Linked DNA regions of Homo sapiens. The protein of the gene in region 2 interacts with the protein of the main gene of each other region in a pairwise test. Each region holds a gene or a part of one and is shown on either strand. Other genes may lie near its edges. The genes, in order: HEBP2 and LRPPRC.

Region 1 (11,048 bases), on a different chromosome or scaffold from region 2:
TAGATCCTTTAGAAAAAGAATGAGGGGATCATTACTGTGTACACCTGCTGAAATGTTGCAGGAAACTTTCCCCTAGGATACAGTCACCTCTGCAATTAATGAGCTCTAGGTCAGAAAACTGAACTAGAAACTGGCAAGGAATCATGTTTTTGTTTTTTAATTGGAGTGATCTCTCTCAGTCCCCTGCTCATCAATTCTTGCTCACTTTTGATTATATATAAAGCCTTACCCTTGTTGATTAGTCAGCTCTTTTGTCCCTAGGAATGCCTTGTTCTACCAACTATTTCCATGAGACTTTACAGGTCAGGACCCCTCGGCTGCCATTTGGAGCTTAGTGGTTAACAGGATACTGATGGCACCCTGGCTTCTGTGGCTGGCACTGCCACCTGGGCTCTTCAAGGTCTCATCATCATCCACATTGCTCTCAGCAAGTGAAGTTCCATCACAGCCCTTCCTGCCAGCCCCAGCCTGCCGAGGAGAGCCACCGCTGAGCTCCTTTATGATGCCCAAGCCCGCTTATCAGTGCATTCCCAGCAGCCTTGCTGAAGGATGGGTCCCCTGGGCCTTCCCGTGGAACATAATTGTCTGATGGGTCACCTTGCCTCATATATCCATGCTGGCATGCTCCCTTCCCTGAGCCTTCTCATTCCTTTCTCTATTGTTTGTCCCAGCCATTCAGGCATTTCAACATTTTGATCACTCTTTCTAGGCTTCTACCAAGCTGCCCTAGAGCAGTGAGTCTGTATTATCTCCTGGCATTTTTCTCATGGTGTGAAATCCTCTATCCTGAGAGCCCCAAGTCAATATACCCTCTCCTTTATCTAGTTGTATAAACCCAGCCCCTTTGACCAAGCACCCTCAGGATCCAGTCCCAAGAGTACGCCCCTGGCCCCTGCAGTACATGCTGCCAGGTTAGGTGGCTCCTCTGGCATAGATCCCATTTCTCCCTCATCAGACCCCTCAGCCGCAATCAGTTATGTTGTGACTTAAGTCTCGTTATAGGCCTGGTAGCCAGGAGAAGGGGAGGGACCAGTCCTGAGGGACACCTTTTGCTTCATGGGGAAAGACCTTGGACACTGTCTTCCCTTGTGTTAGGGAAGAGGCAGGAAGGGAGGGTAGTTCCAGCTCTTCATGGGGAAGGGTGGGCCTCTTCTGAAGGATGTGAATATTCAGGGAGTTTTCTAGGGAGGCAGATGGTTGGGGAGATCCACTAAATGCTCCCATCCCATGTTTTGGGATCCCAAGTTTGATTCCAACCTTGATCTAACAGACCTGGCTTGGTTGAGTATTTGTTGGCTGTTAGCTACTTTTACCATCAAATCCTGTGCTTGGCCTTCAGCTTGCTCTGCTTGGCTACAGCATGAGATGAGGATTGTTGGCAAGCTACCACAGAGACTCTGCGGCTCACACTTAGTTTTGTTTGTTAATTGACCTCAGCTTTTCATTATCCACTTGCAGGACGTCAATCCAACTCAGCAATAACCATGGAAGCCCACTGTCCTTGTCTCTTTTATCCACCCTTCCCATATTTGAGACACCCAAATCACCCACCAGTCATTGCGTTCCCCTGCACCAGCATGCCATTTCATCTGAAGTCTTCATCACTGGACAGCCTTCTTGTGCCAGGGACTGTCTGTGCCACCTATCCACCAGGGATGGGGGCCTCCGAGCCAGCCAGACAGTGAGTCACTCAGCCTGCAAATGCTGTCTTACCACCTACGTTCGTGGGCCACTGGTACCAATTGTGCCAATTTTAGGCTGAGATGGAGTTAGGAGTACAAAACTGGTGAAGTGACATCTCTGAAAGGAAAAGGGAAAAGCAGGATTGAGCAGAGGAACGGTAGGATCTAACAAAGTCTCTAGCAGCCCACCAAAAAGCTCCAGAGCAGAGACTGCTTATTAGAGGGCTTTCGAGTTGGTAGAAATGACTAGGACTTTTTTTTTTCTTTCTGAGACAGGATCTTGCTCTGTCACCCAGGCTGGAGTGCAGTGGCATGATCAGGACTCACTGCAACCTCCGCCTCCCGAGCTCAAGCAATCCTTTCACCTCAGGAGCTAGGAATACAGGCGTGTGCCACCACGCTTGGCTAATTTTTTATTTTTTGGACAGACAGTCTCACTAGGTTGCCATGACTCGTCTTGAACTTCTGGGCTCAAGCAATCCTCCCACCTTAGCCTCCCAAAGTGCTGGAATTACAGCTGTGAGCCACTGCACCTGGCCTAAATGGCTAGGTCTTATACCACCACCTTGCTCAGTTATTGGCTGGGAATTGCCAGAAAAAAGCATGCTGTCAGCTACCACTGCCTTGCTCAGTTGTAGACTAGGTCCCTCTCTCCCACAGAATAGTGTGTCCTTATCTTGAAATCTGGCGTGGACCCTGAAGACGGTAACGGGGAGACTGTCGGCGAACCACACCCCTCACAGCTGGGCGGCTGGTACTTTCTTGAAGGTGAATTTGAGTGGCACACCTCACGTTGTCTGCCACCACTTCAAATCCTGAATAAAACTGACCATCCTTTGGCCACAGTAGCAATTAAGTACCAGAAACAATCAATGACAATTTCCCATCAGTAACCTCACCTCCAAACTAGGCTTCTAAATCATGCTAATCAGCAGCGGCCTCACTCTGGTAACTGCATCCCCACAACTAAAGCTCCCTCGACTCCTAAATGCTTTTGAAAGTCTGTTAATCCTTCCTAAAACCCTGCATAAGGTCCGCAGTTTTCTTTATCCGAGAGACCGTGCCCTACAAGAGCAGTGCTCTCTTGCTCAGCAAGCAGTGTGTGCAGCTTTTTGTTCTGGGTACTGAACGTGGCCTCTCCCTTTAACACTGTCACCTCTGCCCAAGATGCTCCCCTCACCTCTGCCCCTGGCTTTCATCTGACTCATCCTCGTCATTCAAGTCTCAACTGTCTCTTGAGAGGCCTTTGCTGACCACCTTATGTGATGTCCACCACACCCTACCTAACCACACTCTACCCCACTGCCCTATTCTGTTCTTCATCACACTTGCCAATTTCAAGCATCTTATTTGTGTTGAACTCCCTCACCCTCTAGAATGTAAACTCCATGAGGCCAGGGGCCTTGTCTGTGGTGTTCACAGTGGGAGGGTGAATGAAATAGTTAAGGAGGTGGAAAGATGTTGTTGGAGTTAGTGAAGAGGAAGTCAGTGATGAGGGGCTTGGGACACAGGTTTTCTTACCACCACCTCCCAGTCCTTAGCAGAGTGCTTGGAACATAGCAGGGACTCCCTACAATGAGTTAAAGAATGAATGAAAATACGTGACAGTTCAGGGAAATGTTTAGGGGAAAAAGCAAGATTTTTAGGGGGTTAAGTGGAGACCAGAAAGAAAGGAATGAATTCATTACATTTAAATGGAGTTACATGGAGTATTCTTGTGCAGTGGGGCAGTGGGAGGATGCAGGAGGGAAAGTAATACATACAACAGAGAATGTAATGGTGGCAGCCACAAAAGACAATTTGATTTTTGTGTCCAGCTGAATTTCACCTCTCCGGGCCTGACAGCCTAGGGGTTCCACACAAGATAAATAATTTTAACATTTTATTGATACTATCTGGAGGGGATATCATCCAACTGACACAAATCCAAGAAAAAAAAAAGGGAATATGATTGTGATGCAGTGAAGGAGGGAAGTGACATGAAATTTCCCTAGATCCTCACAGAAATAAAGACCACGATAGTTATGACCGATTTATATGTTTACAGACTACTGTCCTCTGTTACCTGTGTATGTAGATAAAACTTCAAGCATTAAAAAGGCACATTGGAAATAAGCTTAATTAATAGTAGTACTCTCAATAGAAGACACTAGACACGCACTTTACTTATAGGTCATGTTGATGTCTATGATAAACAGATGTTTTGCCTCTGACAGCAGAACTTCCTTTCATTTTTCTCATTCGTTTTCTTTGGTGGGTTCATTTTTTTGAATCAACCACACTTCATTATTTCTATTAAGCAATTTGACAGGACTGTTGTAGCCTGCAGTGTAGTAAACCTTCTCATCGAAAACTTTTCCATCTTCCCTTAAAATGCTTGCTAATGTCAAAAGTTGTTCTTGATTCTTTTGGGCACTAGAAAATCCATCGAAAGACCTACAAAGGAGAAAGGAAATAACCGTGAATGATTTTAATACTGATGTGAATGTCAGTCTGAAGCAAAAAGCGGGCGCTAGTACCGTGAATGCTGAGTGAAGTGCAGCTCCAAAGTTACTCCCTCTCGGCCAGGCGAGGTGGCTCACACCTGTAATCCCAGGACTTTGGGAGGCCAAGGTGGGCGGATCACTTGAGGTCAGGAGTTCAAGACCAGCCTGGCCAACATGGTAAAACCCCATCTCTAATAAAAATACAAAACTTAGCCAGATGTGGTGGCGGATGCCTGTAGTCCCAGTTACTTGGGAGGCTGAAGCAGGAGAATCGCTTGAACCTGGGAGGTGGAGGTTGCAGTGAGCCAAGATCACGCCACTGCACTCCAGCCTGGGCGACAGAGTGCAAGACTCTTTCTCAAAAAATAAAAATAAAAAAAGCTACTCCCTCTCAGCAGATGAACTGACCACTCCTGCCTGTGATTCCCAGTCTCCATGTGACCTCAGAAGCACTGAGGAAACCCAGGAGGATGCATCCCCTCCTTCCATCTGTTGACAGGTGGATTTGGAACCTACACAATCTCAAGTGCTCTACCCTGTGCTTCTCAAACCTTTAACGTGCATACAGGTCACCTGGGGATTTTGCTACGATGCAGATTCAGGTCTGGGGTGGGGCCTGAGAGTGTATTTCCTCCGAGCTCCCACATCCATGCCGGTGCTGCTGATCAGAGAACTACACCAACACCCCTGTAGAAGCCCCTTTTCCAGACTCGATTTTCACTTGCACATTGCCCCTTTTTCCCTCTCCTAAGGAAAAGAATAAACACTGGATTACAGATGAATATGATACAGTTTTCACCTCTCTGAATTTATGATCCAATGGAAGAGATCAACGTTCTGGCAGCTCTCTCTATACATCCTGAGGTTTTTTTGTTTGTTTGTTTTTTTGAGACAGAGTCTCACTCTGTCTGTTGCCCAGGCTGGAATATGGTGGCAGAGCATCCTTGACCTCCTGGGCTCAAGCAGTCCTCCCACCTCAGCCTCCCAAGTTGCTGGAACCACAGGTGCACATCGGACTAATTTTTTAAAAAACCTGTAGAGACAGGGTCTTACTGTGTTACCTAGGCTGGTCTCAAACTCCTGAGCTCGAGTGATCCACCTGCCTTGGCCTCCCAAAGCAATGGGATTATAGGCATAAGCCACCACGCCCGGCCTCTGAGAAGGGTTTTAAACAGGGACAGGATCAAAGTGTTGTGGGAGCGTTGAGGACCTGATTAAATCTGGGGTAAGGAGAATCATCTGAGTTGGGCCTGAATGGAGGATGGTTTTGCTGAACAAAGAAAGGGGAGTGATAGGAAAGAGACCATAAATCTAAAAATACCAAGTGTTTTCATAGTGAGGCATAAAATGAGGTCAGGAAGGTGAGTCAGAACTAGAAGGAAGAACCCTGTGCATTAGCCTAAGGCCTTTTGAGGTTATTTCCAAGGATGTTGAGCTGAAATGTGCAACTTGATAAGATCTGGATTAGAATATAGGCAGACATATAATAGACTGGTGAGGAAGGATCCAGTCAGGAGGCTGCTGTGGGGAAGTGGAAGAAAAGACAGTCAAAAGATTAAAACAAAAAGTGGGAAAAGAGAATAAAAGTTTAAGTATACATTCTACAGTATATAAACAAAAACATCCTGAGATTAAATCATGACAGCACTGACCTAGCTGAGCTGCTGACATGCAAGCATGATGAATTTGATTTTGAGGGTTAAGAATAAGAAACACTGAGAAACAAAACTTTTCCTAATATGCCTTCTTTGGTATAAGTTCTGTTATCAATGTGCCAGTGCAAAAAATCAATCCTACCACGCTTCAGCTGAGGTGTCATCTCTTTTAAGGGTACAAACCATGTCTGCTTTATATAACAATGTCTACCCAGCACCCAGAACCATTCCTGGCATGCAGTTCCCTTTTAATCCTGTCAAGTGTAGGAATCTCTGCATGCACATGTATGCAAAATAAAACACTGCAGGTGAGTTGATATAACTCTTCCATTCTATCATTTTCATGTCGATTGAATATAATTCTGAACCATGGGTTAAGAAACATTTTGGGCCAGGCATGGTGGCTCACGCCTGTAGTCTCAACACTTTGAGAAGCCAAGGCGGGTGGATCACCTGAGGTCAGGAGTTCCAGACCAGCCTGGCCAAGATGGTGAAACCCCGTCTCTACTAAAAATATAAAAATTAGCCAGGCATAGTGAGGAGGGGTGACTGTAATCCCAGCTACTCGGGAGGTTGAGGCAGATGAATCACTTTGAACCTGGGAGGCGGACATTGCAGTGAGCTGAGATTGCGCCATTGTATTCCAGCTTGCGCAACAAGAGTGAAACTCCATCTCAGAAAAAAAAAAAAAAAAAGAAAGAAACATTTTGGCTCTTAAATGTATTATTTATTTCCTTGATGAATAACCAATGCTTAGCATGTTCTGCCTAAAAGGAATTTGTTTTCAAATTCATTTTCCCTTAAAATCAAATACTGAACCCTCTAATTAGAAATAAGCTTTTGTTCTCTGACTGTGTGTTGTTTCACAATGATCTATTCACTGTTTTATTCAGAACACAGACAACATATATGGTGCTTGCCTCCCTCACCCCCACGTGCCTGCCTTGCCAGGGGCTGGAATATATGGACATAGTAACATGCTGTCATATTCTTGAAGAAATTTCCGTCTATAAATAAGCCACTATTACTTAGAAGAAGAAGAATAGAAGGGCCCCAGGACAGAGTACCTAGCTAGGTGGAGAAATTGAAGAAGGCATCACAGAAAAGGTGTCATTTGTCCTGTAGGGTGGCAATGGGCTCTCCAGGAAGAGGAAAAAGAGAGTACTAGAGCTAGGAATGCTTGATGCTCATGTTCCAAGTGTTTTACATAAATTAACTCATCCGATCTTCATGGCAACCCTATGAGATAGTAAGTATTATGATCACACGCATTTTAAAACAGGGAAATTTTAGCAAGGAAAAGTGGACTAACGTGCCTGAGGTCAAAGGTAACAAGATGTGGAAGAACATGGCATGTTACATGAAGGGTGAGAAGCCCAAGTGGTGGGAAGGGGAGCTGCTGAGACAGGGCTGGGCCAGGTCATATGTGGCACTGTGCACCGTGTGAACAATCTGAGCTTCCCTGGGGAGGCAAGAGGAATCCAACGGAGATTTTGGGCTTTTGTCATTGTGGTAAGAAAGATGACAGTTCCAGTGTGGAAGAGGAAAGGAAAAGACTGGTGGCAGGGAAGACGGCTTGCAGGCTACTGAAGTGAAATAGTCAAGAAATAATTCAGTTAAGATCAATCAACATCCCAGTATCTATTGGGAATGTCAGGCTTGTGCCAAGAACTGGGGTACACAAAGATGACTTAGTGCGGTCCCTAGAAGAGGAAGACCCGAGTAAGTCACAATGGTGATAGAGAGGAGGGAACAAAACCCTGAATCATTTTTGAGGTGAATGGGCCAGATTTGACAATCAATTGTCAGGAACATTGTGCTGATGGTGACTGTAAATTCCTTGCTCAGGAAGCTGTCTTGACTGTGCATGGTGGCTCATGCTTGTAAACCCAATGCTTTGGGAGGCTGAGATAAGTAGACTGCTTGAGCCCAGGAGTTCAAGACGAGCCTGGGCAACATAGTGAGATCCTGTCCCTACAAAAAATAATAAATTAGCTGGGCATGGTGGTGGCACATGCTACTCAGGAGGCTGAAGTGGGAGGATCCCTTGAGCCCAGATGTTCCAGGCTGCAGTGAGCTATGATCATGCCACTGTACTCCAGCCTGGACAACAGAGCGAGACCCTGTCTCAGAAAAAAAGAAAAAAAAAAAGAGGAGCCTATCTGGCTGATGAGGCCCTCAACTGAGACAGGCACTATAAGATCAGAGATGTGGGAATTGGGCAAAGGCTCATTTTTAGGGTTGTTGAGTTTGATTCCCCCAACCCCAAAGAGAGATGTCCAACAAGTAGGGAAATCAGATCTGGAGACACTTAATAGATGGGAGAATCATTCGACTGAGGGAGTTGAAGCAATATGAATGGATTGCCCAGAACAAGTCGGCTATGAAATGAGGGTCTAAAACAGGCATCGACAGTGATCCTAGGGTAGGGAGCTGAGGAGCCAACGGAGGTAAAGAAATGGGACAGGAGAAATGACAAGAGAGTGACACTCTGAAAGTTAAAGGATAAGCAAGTATTAAGGGAACAGATTCGTCCACACATGACTGCTGTAAGGGTCATGTGGGAGAGGACAGTAACCACGTGGCAGATACAGAGGCACTGCTGAGGATGGCAACGGCAGTCTAAGGAGAGAGTGGGAGTCATACCAGATCATGGTGATTTGCGGTAAAGGCCATTCTCATAAGGTCTCGGATGGAAATGAGGAACATTTGTTGGAACTTGGAGGAAAGGTGACCCTTGTCATGACATGGCAAAGAAACTGTGTTTGTGTCCCAGTGTAATGTGGACAGTACAACTTGTGAGTTATGAAATAGGATATTTGGCTGAACATTTTCTAAGCAAAATGTGAATGGAAGATGTGGCTTCGCTTCTCTTGATAGTAAAATACAAGAAGAGAGAATTTAAAGAGTAAATTTTTAATCAAAAGGGAAGCAGAACTTAAACATCTGGAAAATTCTTAGCCTATCTACATTAAAAGAAATGAGAAAGCTTGTTCAAGAGAGAACAAGGGTAAGGCCAAGCAACCCTTTGATAAGGAGATGAATGTGGAACTGCCATCTAAACAGAAACCAGGACCTATTCTCCAGCATAATGGAAGAACGATGCCAAAGGCATTTTAGAAATTATGAGCTGCCTCTCCCATCACATGCCAAGTTTCAGTGCCTGGGGAGGGCAGAACAATTTCAAAGGAGGGTCTTTGGGCACCTGGGGGGCCTTGGAACTCACTGCCTAGCACTGCCTCACCAATCTGTTTCCTGCATTCCAGTGCAGCCCTCCTTGGATGCCCCAGGTTCAGCTCCAGTGGGCTGAGGTGTGGCCTGGGCTGTGATGTCTGTCCCTCCGGAAGGCACAGGCAGTTAACCTCAGCAGCATCCATGTGGTGCCGACCTCTGTCAGTACATGAGCTGTGGGGGTGTGGCTACCTCCACCTTGAAGGATGGAGCTGCCCAGGGCCTTGGGTATGTGACCCAAGCAGAGGGCCACAGTGAGACCAAGCTACTGCAGTGAGTCCCCAATAGGGAAATGGCTAACAGAGCCATGGGAGCCGGGCACACCAGACTGGGAGGGCCACCGGTGTGCAATTCGAGCCTGGTAGAGCTGCAGGGTGGGGTCCCTCCAACTGTGAGAGCTGCAGTGGGGTTGGGCCATCCAAAGCCATGGCCAGGGCCACTTGAAGCCTTGGGGGCCCAACCTCTGTTCAGCAGAGCTTCACAAGTGGGACCTTCATCCCAGTGGGCCCAGAGGGAAGAGCTTTGAGTCAAAGAAAATTAATCTGAAGATTTAGAACTTACTTGGAACCTGTTACCCATTTCTTTTTTCCCATTTCTTCCTTTGGAATGCAGTATTTATCCTATGTCTGTCCCACCATTGTATTTTGGAAGCATATAATATGTTTGATTTCACAGGTTCATAGATGGAGGGGAATCGGCCGCAGGATGAACTGTACCTTGAGCCTCAGATTTGATTTTGATGATCTTTAGATGAATTTAGGCTTTTGCTGGAATGAATTAAGACTTTTGAGGCTATTGGGATAGAATGAATGTATTCTGCATGTGAGATGATATGAATTTTACAGGATCAGGGCAGAATGCTATGAACTCTATGTTTGTGTCTCCCCAAAATTCATATATACATTTTTCTTTTTGTTGAGACAGGGTCTCAGTCACCCAGGCTGGAGTGCATTGGTGCAATTACGGCTCACTGCAGCCTCGACCTCCTGGGCCCAAGTGATCCTCCTACCTCAGCCTCCCAAGTAGCTGGGACCACAGGCATGTGCCACCAGGCCTGGCTAATATATATATATACATTTGGTAGAGATGGGGCCTTGCCATGTTGCCCAGGCTGGTCTCTAACTCCCAGGCTCAAGTGATCCACCTGCCTCAGCCTCCCAAAGTGCTGGGCCTCAAAATTCATATTTTGAAAACCTAATCACTAATGTGATAGTATTAGGAGATGAGGCCTTTGGAAAGTGATTAGGTCATGAGGGTAGAGCCTTGTAAAACATGTCCAATAAAGCTGCCTTGCCTCTTCCACCACATGAGGGCATTTCTGAGAAGGTTCCATCTATGAACCAGGAAACGGGCCCTCACCAGTCACTGAAACTGCCAGCACCTTAAACTTGAACTTCCTTGTCTCCAGAAATGTGAGAGAGAAATTTCTGTTTTTCATAAACTACCCAGCCTACGGTATTTTGTTACAACAGCCTGAACAAACTAAGACTTCTGTTTTAAGGTATTTTTGTTCAGGTCTAACTATATTGCAGTCTTTTGTTTTGGGAGCATATAATTTGCACCGTGTCTTATATGAAGGGCATGCAATAGACTCATTAAATGAAGTGATTATTATCTTGTGACAGACCTCAGTAACATATACAACAAAGCCAGTAGGAAAACATCACAAAATGCATTAGACCTGATTTTATGGAAGGGTGAAAAAGCCTTTTGAAATTGCATTGGAGCTAAACTGTGAGTGCACGCAAGTAAAACTAGCAGTCAGCAAGGCTATAAATTATCTACCACTTACCGTACAAACACAGTCATTTCGGCTCTATCTTCAATGAAGACATCTGACTCTAAAGGCCTGGGTGGATCAAATTGCTGTTCAGAGGGAATATACAGGGAAATGGTAATGGTAGACTCACTAAAAGGACCTGAACCAGGCTCCACGTAGCTTGTCACTGGAGCTGTCATCTTTATTTTCATCTCTGTGACATAAAAATGAAAGC
Region 2 (11,048 bases):
AACAGAGTGAGACTGTTTGTTTAAAAAAGAAAAAAAAAAAGCAGCAGCAGCCCACAGATATTTACAGTATACTTTATTCAAAGCATTTCAGTTAAAATTATTTTGGGTTCAAATACATGAACATATAATTATATATAAAATACTATAGTTCTCAATAGTTTACAGTGACATCTTTTTTAGAATTAGCTGCTTATAATTTGAGTGTAAATGTATTACAGAAAGCTGCTAAATTGTTTATATTTCTACTTATTTCAATTTAGCTATTAGATATTTAGAACACTCATAAGCCCACCTACAGTATAGTTATTATACTTTAAATATTTATATTCAATAGGGGAATCAATACAATACAAAAGATATTTGAACAGCTAGTCCTTTGTAACACCCCCCCGCTGCTGCCGAGAGGGCTAGATAAGGGGGTCTTACCTATTTCCTCTGTACCACACTCACATTTTACCAGAGTCCATATACAGGGCCAGTGTGGAGTCACTTCATGCAAATGAGATGGTACTTTCAGTTTCCCCAAAAAGATGACTGCGAAATCCAGATTACACCCCAACGTTATGCCTCACCTTGGAGACCTATTCTAATGAATGTCAATTAGTGAATGTTGACTAACTTGTGGTTAGCATGACTGCAAAAAAATGAGGCCTGCTTCAGTGCAATCACTAAAGACAGGAGTGAGGCTCTTGGCCAGGCGTGGTGGCTCACACCTGTAATCCCAGCACTTTGGGAGGCTGAAGCGAGCGCAGGGGGAGGATCACTTGGGGCCAGGAGTTCGAGACCAACCTGGCCAACATGGTGAAACTCCGTCTTTACCATACAAAAATTAGCTGAACATGGTGGTGCAAGCCTGTAATCTCAGCTACGTGGGAGGCTGAGGCACAAGAATCACTTGAACCCAGGAGGCGGAGGTTGCAGTGAGCTGAGATTGCGCCACTGCACTCTGGCTTAAGCAACAGAGCAAGACTATCTCAAAAAAAAAAAAAAAAAAAAAGATGCTTTTGGCAAACCTGTAACATGTGCAGGTCCTGCATCTGGGCAGTGCTCAAGGGAAAGCCGCACTATGTCCACTGGGCCAAGACTCAACGTTGGCCATGCCCCCTGCTTCCTTAAATCTAACGCCACAAAAAGAGTTGAAGTAAAAGCCTGGCCAATACCATGATGACATCTACTTCCTGGCTTCCCGCCATCAACCCTCCCTCACACCATCTGCGGGCAGGTAGCAGATGCAGGAGAGAGAGTTCCACAAGACAGAAGGTCAACAGCACAAGTTGCAAGAGGCCCGCCTACGTCCCCAAGGCAAGGTCTCCCCTGATGTGAACAGTGTGACCCAAGTTGGCACTGAAACTGGAACAGTAGGGAGTCACCAAATTCAAATGAACAAGGAATACCCCAAAATGGGGAGAGTTCTCAAAACATTTTCAACATTTCGGTAATTAATTACCTCATCTCCAGTTAGGTCAATATTCCATATTATTAAGACACCTTTTATAATGGCAAACTCTCCTGACTACCTATCTTAGAATTTTTTTGAAGTCACTACTTACAGTGTAGATATTAACAGGCATGAGATTCAATATAGGGATCACTTTTATTTCAAACAATTAAATACAAACCAATATTTTACCCCTTCATAGATGAAATCACATCTTTTCAGGATATGAGTATAAAGTAACAAGCCTAGGGCAGAGCTTGTACTGACAAAGTCCTGAAACTACAATGAGAGGAAACACATTGCTCTACTTCGGGATAAGTCATGACCGAGACTCAATTTCAGAGACGCTCTATGAACAGAGGTGCTTGAAGCCACAGTGGCAGAAGGGAAAGATGGGGAAGTGTGCCGAAGAGCCTCCAGGCATGACAGACAGTCCCCTGACCAAGCACAAGTAACAGGCCCTTTGGGTCTCTGCTTCTCACTGGAAAATGATGAAGCCTAGATCTGATGACTCCTAGTGCCAACATTTAACAAAGTTCGAAAGTTATGCAGGACTTCACACATGTACGGAATGGCTGTATCACAGAATATTATGCGTTAGAAAGTTCACGGTCACTATACCTAGCTCTAAAATTTTTCAGAGAAACAGCAGACTAATAAGTGAATCTTAAATAAAGGAATAACATTTTAATGAAATAAATGAAACAGAGCAGGGAAACCAAAGAGCCAATTAGGGGAAGAATCCTGAAAAAGTATGGCTTCACACAGCAGCAGCATTGAAGAAAACACTATCGATTTTTCCCAGAGAAAAAAACTCCAAAAATGTCCAATAACCAAGTGCACAGAGTTATGGTCAATAAGACTTTGAACATGCATCACACATACATAAGTACATAAAGAAAATTTTCATTTATTTTTCCCTCAGATATACTTCAAAATAACATGTAGACACAGAATCACAAATATATACAAAACAAAGTATCGCCTGGTTATTTCAAGAAGAGTTTTCCCTCAATTTTCTTAGCTGCTGTGCATAAAATTCAAAGCTTTCCTGTTAAGGAGAAAAAAAGAGGGAAGTTAGAGATACCAGCAAGAGGTGATGGTACATAACTTAAAAAATCATAAAACACTACCAACTGGTAGCTAAGACTGCCAGGCCCATGGAAGATGCTGCCCCTCAAGCTTCAGTACTCCTTCCTTGTTTCATGAAATCACAAGTTCAAGGGCCTCGGGTTCAGAGTTAAAGCTAGCAGCAGGAGGTAGGGTGCGTGTGTGTATACGTGTGTATGTGCAAGCATGTGTGTGTGCACATATGGAGGTATGGGTATGGAAGGCTGAGGTGTTTGAAATAAACACGGTGTATTGACTCAGTTCAATGACATAACAAAAAGGAATTGTGCATATGTGATTTCTCTTATTAAAGAAAACATGCCGGGCACAGTGGCTCACGCCTGTAATCCCGGCACTTTGGGAGGCCGAGGTGGGCGGATCACGAGGTCAGCAGTTCAAGACCAGCGTGGCCAACATGGTGAAACCCCATCTGTACTAAAAATACGAAAATGTGCCAGGCATGGTGGCAGGCCCCTGTAATCCCAGCTACTTGGGAGGCTGAGGCAGGAGAATCGCTTGGACCTGGGAGGCGGAGGTTGCAGTGAGCCGAGACCGTGCCATTGCACTCCAGCCTGGGCAACACAGCGAGACTCCATCTCAAAAAAAAAAAAAAAAAAAAAAAAAGGCAAAATTTCCTAGACGAAGAAATAAAAACCAACTTATGTAAATGAACAAGTAATTACCACTGACATAATATGCTTGGCTGTTGAACTACAGGCCATTAAATCCTATTTCAAGTTGAAATGAGAGAACTGCCCCAAGGACATTTGGTAAATCCATGCCTATAGCTGAAGGTCTGAGACAGACCTTGTATTTTAAACTGTGGCCCCAGAGAGCTATGTTCTCCGACTGCCGCAGCCAAGGCATGCTGCTCAGTCCCTCAAGCCATCCCCTGAGGGCTCTTCACAGAGATCTAATCCTCATGTAATTAAGTCTTCAACTTATTTTCTTACACATTGTTATGAAGTGCACATAAATCTGCAGAGGTATTTTTTCCCCTTAATTAAGAAATACTCACAGGGGGTTCAATGAAAGGGACAGGCTCTCCAGCATACTTCAGCAAAGATGCGTAACGCTTTAGAAACAGATCATCCAATTTTGTATTCTTTGCAGTCAAATGTTCATACAGTGCTTTAGCAGATGTGACATCTTTCTCTGAGACTGACATAAAGAAAAAAATATATTAATCAGAGATAAAGACAACCTATCTTACTCTTTTCACCAAAACAGCCACTCAGGGACGGCTGGATCCCTTTATCCCACGGCAAATGAACACTTAACTACTTTCAGTAAGAAGCCACATTCAGAATCTACCATCTCCCTCACTTCTCTACATCCCTCATTCGGCATCACTCACTTTGAAGGAGAAGAAAATGACAAATATGGCTACATTTAAAGGACTTTAGAATAATATTGATACCATTCACTTAGGTTATTACATTATTTAAGACCTATGATAGTTCAAGTGACCACAAACTGAAGTCCTCAGTTATAAAATAATACACACCATTCAATCCCCTTTGGCTTAAAACCACTGTGAAATCAAGATAATCCAGGAACTGTTGTGGAGAGGGACATGTCAATTATGTAGAAATCTACATCAACATCAAGATCATCAGCTCAACATCAAAAAAGCTTTTCATTTTTCTATTGTAAAATAAACAAATATGGAAAGTATAGTTAGCTACAATGATACACACACACAAAAAACCTATAGGCCGGGCGCAGTGGCTCACGCCTGTAATCCCAGCACTTTGGGAGGCCGAGGTAGGCGGATCACGAGGTTAGGAGATCGAGACCATCCTGGCTAACATGGTGAAACCCTGTCTCTACTAAAAATACAAAAAATTAGCCGGGCGTGGTGGCGGGTGTCTGTAGTCCCAGCTACTTGGGAGGCGGAGGCAGGACAATGGTGTGAACCCGGGAGGTGGAGCTTGCAGTGAGCCGAGATGGTGCCACTGCACTCCAGCCTGGGCAACAAGAGCGAGACACCATCTCAAAAAACAAACAAAAGCAAAACCTATAAGGAGACATTAACAAGTTACACTAGTTTCACTTAAGTGAATGATGAAATATGTTAGGAGCCAAATTTGGCTGGCTCTCTACTTGTGGCTGATTTGTGGAAATTTTTTAGTTTACCATGGAGATGGTAAGGGCTCTGCTAACAATTACTGCTGGTAATTCAACTCCTTAATTTTGCATTAGATTGTTAGCATCTAAGCATCACATAAACCCCTGCCCTACACTGACTCTGATATTGTCAACCGCAACTCCGGCAGCACCAGGGGAACCCCTAAGACAGAGGTGAGACGTTCAGCAATCAAAGAGTCTCCCAAAGTGGAATGAGGGTGACTCATCAGCTCTTAGTGGAGTTGGAACACATCTTTGCTGTTTCCATGAAGTCAACTTCTTGTGTAAATCCTTTATTTCCCTTCCTGAGGAGCTGAACCCTTTAAGGGCTCAAGCTCTATCTTCTAGGAAGCTGCTCCGAAAATTCTGGCATCTTGCCTTTCTTTACTTCTTGATTTTCTACCTTCCTCCCAAAATGGATTACCTAATTTAGTAGTAACACACACAGATTTATGCGCTTGACACTATTTCACATTACAGGCATACCTTGGCTTTAATGCACTTTACAGATGTTGCGTTATTTACAAATTGAAGGTTTATGGTAACCCTGCCTTGGGCAAGTCTATCAATGCCATTTTTCCAACAATATGTGCTTACTTTGTGTCTCTGTGTCACATTTTGGTAATTCCTGGAATATTTCAACCTTTTTCATTATTGTTATATCTGTTACGGTGATCTGTGACCAGTGATCTTTGATGTTACTATTGTAATTGGGGGATGCTATGAACCATACACATGGAAGATGGCAAACTTGAGAAACGTGTTCTGACTGCGATGCTGACTAGTAATTCTCCTGTCTTCCTCTACTCAGGCCTCCCTATTCTGAGACACAACAATATTGAAATTAGGCCAATTAAAAACCCTATTATAGCCTCTAAGTGTTCAAGTGAAAGAGTCATACATCTCTCATTTAAATCAGAAGCGAGAAATGAAATGATTAAGCTTAGCTTAGTGAGGAAGGCATGTCAAAAGCCGAGATACGCTGAAAGCTAGGCTTCTTGCGTGGAACAGCCAGTTGTGAATGCAAAGGAAAAGTCCTTGAAGGAAATTAAAAAGGTGCTACTTCACTGAACACACAAATGATAAGAAACTGACACAGCCTTACTAGTGACATGGAGAAAGTTTTATTGGTCCGGATAGAAGATCAAACCAGCCACAACATTCCCTTAAAAGCCAAAGCCTAATCCAGTGCAAGGCCCTAATACTAGCAGAGGCTGGTTCATGAGGTTTAAGGAAAGAAGCCATCTCCATGACACGAAAGTCCAAGGTGAAGCAGCAAATGCTGATGCAGAAGCTACGGCAGGTTATCCAGAAAATCTAGCTAAGACCACTGATGAAGGCGGCTACACTAAACAACAGATACTCCATGTAGATAAAACAGTCTTATATTAGAAGATGTCATCAAAGATTTCATAGCTAGAGAGGAAAAGCTAATGCCTAGCTTCAAAGGACAGGCTGACTCTATTTTCAATGGCTAATGCAGCTGGTGACTTTATGTTGATGCCAATGCTCACTTACCATTCCCAAATCCTAGGGCCCTTAAGAATTACGCTAAATTTATTCTGCCTGTGTTCTATAAATGGAACAACAAAGCCTAGAGGACAGCATGGATGTTTATACATGGTTCACTGAGTATTTAAAGCCTGCTGTAGAGACCTACTGCTCAGGAAAAAAAAGATTCCTTTCAAAATATTACTGCTCAGTGATAATGCACCTGGTCACCCAAGAGCTCTGAAGGAGATATACAGGGAGATTAATGTTGTTCTCAGGTGCCCTAATAAAACATCCATTCTGCAGCCCATAGATCAAGGAGTAATCTTGACTTTCAAGTCTTAACACATTTTGGGCTCACTTCGGCAACACATATACTGAAATTGGAATGATACAGAGAAGATTAGCATGGCCCCTGCACAAAGATGACACGCAAATGTGTAAAGCGTTCCATGTTTTAAACATAAAATTAAAAAAAAAAAACATGTTTCATAAGGCTATAGCTGACACAGACAGTGATTCTTCTGATGGATCTGGGCAAAGTAAACTGAAAACCTTCTGGGAAGGGTTCACCATTTCTAGATGCCATTAAGAACATCTGTAATTGATAGGAGGTCAAATTATCAACATTAACAGGAGTTTGGGAGAAGCTGATTTCAACCCTCATGGATGAACCCCTTGAGGGTCTCAAGATTTCTGTGGAGGAAATCACTGCAGATGTGGAAATAGCAAGACAACTAGAAGGAGAAGTGGAGCGTGAAGACGTGACTGAATTGCTACAATCTCATGATCAGACTTAACATGAGGAGAAGCTGTTTCCTATGGATGACCAAAGAAAGTGGTTTCTTGAGAAGGAATCTACTCTTGGTAAAGATGCTGTGAACACTGTTGAGATGACAACAAAGGATTCAGAATATGACATAAATTTAGTTAATAAAGCAGTGGTATGGTTTGAGAAGATTGATTCCAATTTTGAAAAGACATTCAATTGCAGATAAAATGCTAACAAACAACATCGCATACTACAGAGAACTCTTTCGTGAAAGGAAAAGTCAGCTGATGTGGCAAACTTTATTGTTGTCTTAAGACATCTCAACCTTTAGCAATCATCACCCTGATCATTCAGCAGCCATCAACATTGAGCCAAGACCTTCTACCAGCAAGATTATGACTCACTGAAGGCACAGATGATCGTTAACTATTTTTAGCAATATCTTAAAATTAAGGTATGTACTTTTTAAAAACATAATGCTATTGCACACTTAATACACTACACTATGGTGTAAACATAACTTTTATATGCACTGGGAAACCAAAAAATTCATGTAACTTTGTTCATTATATTTGCTTTATTGTGGTGGTCTGGAACCATATCTTCCAGGTATGCCTGTGTTTAGTTACTGGAAATTTGATAAATTTTATGACTATTAGCTCTATTTTGAAATAATACAGAATGTTCTCCCTGTAAGGACGGAAAAAGAGAACTGACTTACTAATTCTGATTCTTGAGTCTGTTGTCCTCCCATAGATAAAATCAATGAAGCAATTCTTTATTTACCCCATGCCTCCAGTGAGCAAATCAGTGGGCCACAGATGGAGAGGTGATCATGATTGAGAAATGCTAACATTTATTTTGATGACTGAGGAAACTTTAGACAATTTCCTTTCATATGTGATTGTCTGGCAATCAGGGAACAAACTGGTTAAAAGACCAGAATTTGAACTGGGACGTAAAAACCTTGGGCTACTTTTTAATCAAGGGTCTGTCATTTCAAAGGAGTAGCAGGCAAGCAGAGAGGGTACTGAAGGAGCAAGAAGGCCAGTTAAGTGAGTCTCAAATGTGTACTTGTTTCAGGTGGCAGGCCCTTGGGGAGACTGAACTGGTTTCTGATATATAAGTCCAAGAGGATTTCCAGGTCTTCCCAGGAGCCTGGGATTCTACTCAATATACCCGGACTGCTCGGAAGATGTTCAGTGATACTTTTTAATGTTAAAGTTATATGCATAATTTCATATTTTTCTTAATAGTTTAAAAACATATTCCAGAACTGAGTTATTTATATCATAATTATCTGATATTTAGGATTACTGCCTTTGAGCTGAAGACTAAGACTTAGTTCACTATACTACAAGTCATTTACATGATATAGTCACTTAAATAATAAAGCCATTTAAATAAATAATATAGTCAAATTAAACTTATATTACCATAGCTTTTCATGAGGGAATTGTATGCTTCTTCCTTTTCATTTAATTCAGGAATCAATTCTAACACAGATTTCACAGTTGATGCCTAGGAAATTACATAAAGGTAATATTATGAAAACCGCAAATTAACAGTGAATTAGAACACTGACAAATCAACACTATATTAAAAATTTTCACAATAATTATAACAGAACTACCTATTAAATTTAATGCACTATTGTCCCTTGTATATTAGCATTTGATATTGACTCAATAATCTACAGCTAAAAGAAACCAGCATTTTTCCACAGGTTAATGCAATTCCACTTACATTTCTATGAATATTTTTCTAGAATATGATAAACACATTGCTTCTTTTGTCAAGTGGTGACCATACCAAGAAGTTATGAGATCCCAAGGGTAGAGAGATAACAACCCTATCTTTAGGTGCCACAACTGGTTGATGAAATTGTAAAGAATTCAGTTAAAACATTCTGAAGTGTTACACACTTGACATACAAAAAAGAGCATTTCCAGAATCTCACTGAAATTTTTACTTATTTCTTCCAGGAATATGCAGACTCGGCTATGGCTTTATTTCCTGTAGCGAGTGAATACAGAACTGCTATGCCGTAATGAATATCTGCTGAGTATTTCCCGCCCTACTCCAACGTTACTGGATAAACCCATGATGGATATATAAACATCTATGCCCTCTTCCCATCTCACCAAGAGGAGCAAAATCTGGCTTAACTATTCTACTGTCAAGCAATGGAACACTGTTAACAGGCATCTTAAAAATCCTAACTCCTTTCTATAGCATGTTTATTCAGTCAATCCACACCTGGACCTGCATCCTCCCAGGGCTTCTTCTATTTTAAACTGTCCTGGGTGGGATGTTCTAAGCAGACATATTGCCGTGCATTTCCCGTCCCATCTCCTGGACAAGGCAACAGGGACTTGGCACAGTCCCACAGGTGGACTGACAAGTGCTTTTCAGATTCCTTATACTTTTTAATCACACGTATAAAAACACAGCCTCTCTGAAAGGAAAGAAGGGGCAATTAAATATTTTCTAAAAGTTGTTGGTAGTAAATAAATACATGAGTCACAGATGCAATGAAGCAAATTTTTTAAAAGTGTAGGTATATCTAGGGGAAGGGTGTAGAAATTCAGGAAAACGTAGACCTCCCAAACTGGACACAGCCTAAATGTTTCAAATAAAACAAGCATCACAGTTGGCATGTGGTTTGAAACTTCATAAAGAACCCAAATAAACTAAGAATGTAGTTTCTCGTATACAAGAGGTAAAATCCGATCTAAGAGAAATTTAATTTTATACTTACAGTTAAACATCAAAGTAGAATGTGATATACCTACTATGTACCCACAGAAATTTTTTTTTAAAAAATTTTTTCAAAAGGACTTGGTTCTATTACATACCCACCCACCCCTTTTACAGTGTAAATAAAGTAACTGCACAAATTAGAATTAATTTGTGGCTCCATATCAATTTGAAAGCCAAGTGGCTCATTTACCTGATGGTTTATACCTGATAAATGCTCAAAAGTAGCCACGTGCTAGGAGACACTCTGGAGTGTACATTTTCCTTGGTAGTGCTTCTGCATTGTTAAATGTCCCAAGGTGACCGAAGCAACATAATTTTAATCTTCCATTTCTTTCTTTCTTTCTTTCTTTCTTTTTTTTTTTTTTTTTTTTTGTAAAGACCAGGTTTCGCCATGCTGGCCAGGCTGGTCTCAAACTCTGAAACTCCTGACCTCAAGTGATCCACCCGCCTCGGCCTCCCAAAGTGCTGGGATTACAGGTGTGAGCCACCATGCCCAGCCTAATCTTGCATTTTTTAAGGGCCTTTTCTTGGGGCTCTCAATGCATACCTGTGTAAGTGGAAAATTCCTGCGTGAACTTGTTTTACATTTCCAGTACAGCTAACAGACGACAAAACTGACTCTAAGTAGAGACAAGCAAAGTCTTGAATCTCTATAGTATTCTCAAATAAGGTCCTGAAACAACAGGCTTTTATGTTAAATTCAATACTTCTGAGCAAGGCACGTACAGTATCATTGATTTGTAAGCAGGTAAAGCACAGTACCTTTCCTTGTTTCCTAGAATTCCTAAGGAGGAACAACAACAAAATCGGGGTTTGTTCAGCAATTGCACCACATCTCTAAAAATTAAAACATTATTCAGTAAGTGAAGGTTTCTGATAAACAAGTGGATCAAACTGAATATTTCCAATTAAGAAAGTTCACAATAATACAGTAGTGTATTATTACCAATAGGAAGGCCTAATAGTCGACTATTATTTTTTAAGGCAAGAAAAAAGAAAACAAGTGCAAGCTATGCCAAGCTTTGGTGAATGCTGTCCTTGGCATTGCAAGTATAAAGTTTGTTTAAAAAGAAAAGGGAAAAATTAAACTAATGCTTCAACAACCACAGAATAAGGTTTAGGACTGCAAAGAAAGAGGAAAAAAAGAAACATTATTCCTCTCCAATTATACTGCCAAGCATTCACAAGTGAGCTAGGGATCATAAGGTTAATTATACATTTAATAAGGTGTCAGGGAGATAACTGCTCATTTCTTTATAAAAATTAAAATGTACAAAGCAAGTTCTCTTTAAAGTATAATTACCTACACTTATGCATACAAAAGGACTGATTTCAATCTCTCTA

The links.
Region 1: the proteins of LRPPRC (region 2) and HEBP2 interact in a two-hybrid assay, tested with the Homo sapiens proteins (one study listed by BioGRID).

What each region holds. Positions count from the first base shown.
Region 1 is NC_000006.12:138,405,950-138,416,997, reverse strand, and holds part of HEBP2 (heme-binding protein 2), read right to left. Parts: intron 11,028-11,048; coding exon 10,847-11,027; intron 4,119-10,846; coding exon 3,920-4,118; 3' UTR 1-3,919. UniProt on the Homo sapiens protein: Can promote mitochondrial permeability transition and facilitate necrotic cell death under different types of stress conditions.
Region 2 is NC_000002.12:43,886,168-43,897,215, forward strand, and holds the end of LRPPRC (leucine-rich PPR motif-containing protein, mitochondrial precursor), read right to left. Parts: intron 10,542-11,048; coding exon 10,467-10,541; intron 8,463-10,466; coding exon 8,378-8,462; intron 4,196-8,377; exon of another isoform or gene 4,056-4,195; intron 3,710-4,055; coding exon 3,567-3,709; intron 2,490-3,566; coding exon 2,433-2,489; 3' UTR 57-2,432; downstream 1-56. UniProt on the Homo sapiens protein: May play a role in RNA metabolism in both nuclei and mitochondria. In the nucleus binds to HNRPA1-associated poly(A) mRNAs and is part of nmRNP complexes at late stages of mRNA maturation which are possibly associated with nuclear mRNA export.